Regions from separate parts of the Homo sapiens genome. Here region 2 is linked to region 1. Evidence: fine-mapped expression QTL. A gene starts in region 1. The other region holds a variant in brackets. All regions are shown on one strand. Distances are between the middles of the regions. Region 1 holds the start of LINC03124 (long intergenic non-protein coding RNA 3124). Region 2 has its middle 100 kb from the start of LINC03124.

Region 1 (2,910 bases):
GTTATACAGCTGATATATGATACTTGCATAAACTATGGACAAAAACAGGGAGGACAAAAACATGATCAACACAAATATGGACACAATCAACTGACTTTGATAAAGAACACTGCAATGTGGAAGGCAGAGAATGAATACCTTTGACAAAAATGATATCCAGATGCAGAAGCGAGAAATAGGACCTTATTTTACACGATGTATGAAAATGAACACCCACTCCCCCAAATTGAAGGCAAAACAAAAGACCATAAACTACAAAATGTTTTTAACTAAAACACAGGATGAGCATATATTTTGGGTCACTTGAATCTCTGCTCACCTTTGCAAAGAGGAAAATAAACACCCTGGAAGAAAAACCTCATTGACAATTAAATGCTTTGTCACTGACATATTATTTTCTTATATGGGTGACGAAAATTACATGCATGAAACGCAAAAATAAATATCATGTTGACTACATCAACATGAAAAGTTTCTGCACATCAAAGAAAACTACTTTCCAATTAAAAAAGCATCCTATAGATTAGGCAAAAATTTCAGGCAATCTTGTAATTCACGAGGAGTTGTCATCTAATATGTACACAAAAAACACTACAAAGTAGCAAAAGCATCCAATCTAATATTTTGCAAAGAACCTGAACAGACAATTCTGCACAGCCATAAAATCGAACAACAAATAAGAGATAAGGTCCTCAAAATCAACTATTCATTAGAAAACTGTAATTCAAAACCACACACAGATAATCTCACACTTATCGAATATTCCTTGATTTTTTTAAAAAAATAGGAGGGGCTGGGAACGGTGTCTCATGCCTGTAATCTCTGCACTTTGCGAGGCTGAGGCAGGTGGGTCACCTGAGGTCAGGAGTTTGAGACCAGCCTGACCAATATCGTGAAACCCCATCTCTACTAAAAATACAAAAATGAGCTGGGCATGGTGGCGGCGCCTGTAGTCCCAGCTACTCTGGAGGCTGAGACAGGAGACTTGCTTAAAACCAGGCAGCGGTTGCAGTCGGCCGAGATGGCGCCACTGCACTCCAGCCTGTAAGACAGAGCAAGACTCCGTCTCAAAACAAAAACAAAAACAAAACAAACCCCAAACCAAAAATAGTAGGAATGCGGGTGTGGTTTTGGAGAAAGGGAAACTCATACACTGTAGGTGGAAATGAAAATTAGGATACACACCATGGAAAACAGCTAAATAGCTGGAGACTCCTCAAAGAACTGAAAATACAGATGCCCCCTGCTCTAGCGAGGTCTCTTTTTAAAGGTGCTGAGGCATCAAAAATAATCCTAGACTCCAGCTCAGAGGCCCCTGGGGCTCCGAGGGACCCAGGTCCCGCGTTTTACCGCCAGCTGTGGGCCAGGGCGCTCCTATACGCTGGACGCGGGTCGGACATTGGCATAGCCTTCCCGGCCGGGGTGCGGACGCTGCAGTAGCCAGGACCGCACAACCGCCCCCAAGCGGAGGACTCGGGCCCAGATGCCCACGAAGAAGTGCGGGCACGAAAACAGGGAGAGGCAGGGAAGGAGCAGGGAGGGTTCCCGGTGGGGTCCACGCCCCCGCCACTGACCGCGGAGACCTGTCTCCTACTCCACCATCACATGGAACCCACCACCGCTCAGAAGCTCGCTCTGACCACGCTGCTGCTGCTGCAGGGGCGTCGCAGGAACTGCAGTCTCAGCTCCGTAGGGACACGCACGCTAGCAGCATCCCTAGTGCCAGGTTGAAGCTCCACCCCCTCTTAAAGGGACCGCGGCTCGGACTTGCCAGAAGCCGCTTAGGGTTGCGGCACAGGCTGAGCCTCTGCCCAGCCCAGGGGACGACGAAAGGCCCCTGGTCTCTCATCCTCCCCAGCTTTCGGGCCCTAGAAGTCGCAGGAGCGCTCCCTGTGACCGCCTCCCGGAGATCGGCTCCCTTTGCCTAGGGAGCGCCCAGGACCTGCCCCTGCCCTCCTCTGGACCTCAGCTTCACCATCCGCAAAGGAAGCAGCCTCGCTAGAGCTCTGGGGGTCCCTCAAGCTTGGCGTCTCAGGATCCAGGGTGGGCTCCCCTGCCCCTCTGCAGAGGGGGCCCAGAGAACCACAGAAAGCTGGGGGCTGGAGGGACAGTTCGGAGGGCAGCAGGGCCTCCCCGGCCTCACTGTCCGCATCTGTCCTGTGGGAGCTCGCGGGCCTCGCTATGGCCCAGGCACCCACAGCCTCACCAGGGCTGCCTGGGTCACCGGGCTCTCCAGGAGGCAGGCAGGGGCCCTGGGGTCCAGCGCTGCCCCCATCTCAACTCTTTCCTTCATCAGGGCCCACGAGGGGCCCTGTGGACTGGACCCAGGCCCGCCCATTCCCAGGGAGAGGCTATTAATTATTTCCTCAATTTCAGAGCCTGTTATTGGTCTATTCAGAGATTCAGCTTCTTCCTGGTTTAGTCTTGGGAGGGTGTATGTGTCCAGGAATTTATCCATTTCCTTCTAGATTTTCTAGTGTACTTGTGTAGAGGTGTTTGTAGTATTCTCTGATGGTAGCTTGTATTTCTGTGGGATCAGTGGTGATATCCCCTTTATCATTTTTTATTGCGTCTATTTGATTCTTCTCTCTTTTCTTCTTTATGAGTCTTGCTAGCGGTCTATCAATTTTGTTGATCTTTTCAAAAAACCAGCTCCTGGATTCATTGATTTTTTTGAAGGGTTTTTTGTGTCTCTATTTCCTTCAGTTCTGCTCTGATCTTACTTATTTCTTGCCTTCTGCTAGCTTTTGAATGTGTTTGCTGTTGCTTCTCTAGTTCTTTTCATTATGATGTTAGGGTGTCAATTTTAGATCTTTCCTGCTTTCTCTTGTGGGCATTTAGTGCTATAAATTTCCCTCTACACACTGCTTTAAATGTGTCTCAGAGATTCTGGTATGTTGTGTCTTTGTT
Region 2 (2,910 bases), 100 kb before region 1:
ACTGGGGGTTGCTGCCTAGGGTGAGGTTCTAGCAAGACTTACAAGCAGAGCTCAGGGAAAAGTCTGCATGGGAAAACAGAGCCAGACTTAGAAGGCATTGCTGATGAATCCCATTTTCTTATTACAGGAGAGCTAGCAAAAACTGCAATATGATGTGTAAAGTCAGTGCAATCTTATGGAAATTATACCAAGTCACAACATGAGGCATGAGATACCTCAGATGTTGTTCCCTCTAAATCTCATGTTGCATTGTGATATCCCCAATGTTGGTGGTAGGTCTGGAGGGAGGTGATTGGATCATGGGGGTGGATTTCTCAGGAATGGTCTAGCATCATCTCCCTGGTGCTGTCCTTGTGATAGTGAGTGAATTCTTGCAAGATCTATTTGTTTAAAAGTGTGTGGTGCTTCCCCTGCCTTGCCAGGTGATGTGCCTGCCTGCTCCTTCTTCATCTTCTGCCATGAATAAAAGCCTCCTGAGGCCTCACCAGAAGCTAGGCAGATGCCAGAACCATGCTTGTACAGCCTGCAGCTATACAAACTTCTTTTCAAACCTCTTTTCTTTATATATTTCCCAGTCTCAGGTATTTCTTTATAGCAATGCAAGAATGGCCTAATACAGAAAATTGGTTCTGAGACATGGGGCATTGCTATAAAGATACTTGAAAATGTGGAAGTGACTTTGGAACTAGGCAATGGGCAGGAGTTGGAAGAGTTTGTAAGGCTCAGAATACAGGAAGATGAAGGAAAGTTCTGAATGTCTTAGAGACTAGTTAAATGGTTGTGACCAAAATGCTGATAGTGATATGGACAGTGAAGGATAGGCTGATGTGGTCTCAGATGGAAATGAGGAACTTACTGGGACTTCAAATAAAGGTCATGCCTGTTATGCCTTTGCAAAGAACTTGGCTGCAGTCTGTTCATGTACTAGGGATCTGAGGAAGTTTGAACACTCAGATGCAGGAGCAAAAAATGACTTAAAGTTGGAATTTACAATTAAATGGGAAAAGCAGACCATACAAGTATAGAAAATGTGCAGCCTGCCCATTTGGCAGAGGAAGATAAAGCATTTTCAGGGGAAGAATCTAAGCAGGCTGTGGAGCAACCACTTATTAGAGACATTTGCGTAACTGAGAAAAAGCTAGGTGCTGATAGCCAAGACAATTAAAAAAGGCCTTGAAGGCATTTCAGAAAGCGTTGCAGCAGCTCATCCCAGCACAGACCTAGAGGTCTAGGATGAAAGAATGGTTTCTTGTGTAGTGGGAATTTATAAGTTAATTAATTTATTTATTTATTTTGAGATGGAGTCTCATTCTGTCACCCAGGCTGGAGTGCAGCGGCACAATCTCAGCTCACTGCAAGCTCTGCCTCC[C/T]GGGTTCAAGCCATTCTCCTGCCTCAGCCTCCCAAGTAGTTGGGACTACAGGCACCTGCCACCATGCCTGGCTAATTTTTTGTATTTTTAGTAGAGACGGGTTTTCACTGTCTTAGCCAGGATGGTCTCAATCTCCTGACCTCATGATCTGCCCACCTCGGCTTCCCAAAGTGCTGGGATTACAGGCGTGAGCCACCATGCCCAGGCTGCAGTGGGATTTTTTAAGGAATCAGAGACCAATGGGGTTGAGGAGGATATTTATTATTTAGTTGCACCGGCCCAGTCAGATTAACATCCAAAGGACTGAGTCCTGATCAAAGACTTAAGTTACCTTTTAAGCGTTTTGTAGGGTGGTGGGGAGTGGGGAGATCTGTCCAGGGGGAAGCGTATTACAGAAGCGAGAAACAAAGACAGTTATTCAATTAATTGAGACATGCATTATATCATTTCTTACTTTTCAAGGAAAAACATGTTTTACGACTTGAGTTTATCTGTCTAGTGACCTTGCAGCTGCGCAGCTAGAGGAACAGGGTCTTCACAATGCCTGGGAAAGGAGGAGAGATGAGGCTCACTAGCCACAGAAAAACCGGCAGTTAATTTTTAAAGGGCTCCAGCTCTTTCTCTTTCTCAGGGGGAATTGGGTTTTCTTACATACAACTGAGTTTCTGCTTACACATTCTTTAATTTCTTTTAATTCCTGTTCCACTTGGACCAGGGCCAGGGCACCACTGCCCTGTACCACCCCCAGGAGGGTGTTCCTTGCATCCTGGCCCTTCTAGCGCCAGCCTTGGTTCAAAGGGCTCCAGATAGAGCTCAGGCCATGGCTTCAGAGGGTGCTAACTATAAGCCTTGGTGGCTTCCATGTGGTGTTAAGCCTGCAGGTGAGCAAAGTGCAAGAGTGAAGGAGGCTTGGCATTCTCTGCCTAAATTTCAGAGGATGTATGAGAAAGGCTGGATGCCCAGGAAGAAGCCTATGCCCAGCTGGAGCCCTCAAAGAGGACCTCTTCTAGGACAGTGCCAAGTGGAAATGTGGGGTTGGAGGCCCCACACGGGGTCCTGACTCGGGGGGGCTGCCTAGTGGAGCTGTGGGAGGGGGGCTGCTGCCCTCCAGATCCCAGAATGATAGAGCCACCAGCAGCTCATGTCTTCAGTGTAGAAAAGCTGTGGGAGCAGAGCTGCCCAAGGCCTTGGGAGCCCACCCTATGCATCCTGGGAATGCTCTATGTTCCCAGGATGTGGGACATGGTTTCAAAGGAGATTATTTTGGAACTTCGAGATTTAATGACTGCCTTGCTGGGATTTGAACTTGTGTGGGGCCTGTAGCCCCTTTCTTTTGGCCAATTTCTCTCTTTTATAATGGGAAGGTTTACCCAATGCCCTGTACCCAAATTTTATCTTAGAAGTAAATAACTTGTTTTGATTTTACAGGCGCATCAGTGGAAGGGACTTGCCTTGTCTCAGAAGAAACTGCACTTTCGAGTGATGCCGAAACAGGTTGAGACTTTTGGGGGACTATTGAGAAGGGATGATTGTATCTTGCA

The links. PIP is the estimated chance that this variant, and not a neighbour inherited with it, causes the effect.
Region 2: its variant is the best candidate, but not a certain one, in a credible set for the expression of LINC03124 in whole blood (INTERVAL, PIP 0.87).

What each region holds. Positions count from the first base shown.
Region 1 is chr2:131,681,264-131,684,173 of GRCh38, reverse strand. It overlaps LINC03124 (long intergenic non-protein coding RNA 3124), which reads right to left and starts at 1,675. Exons shown (of 10, transcript NR_167889.1): 1 at 1,186-1,675. RefSeq lists a silencer at 1,703-1,752 and an enhancer at 2,123-2,242.
Region 2 is chr2:131,785,064-131,787,973 of GRCh38, reverse strand. No RefSeq gene overlaps it. Among named protein-coding and RNA genes, the nearest start is that of LINC03124, 100 kb to the right of the region's middle. The variant C/T (reference allele first, on the strand shown) is at 1,370.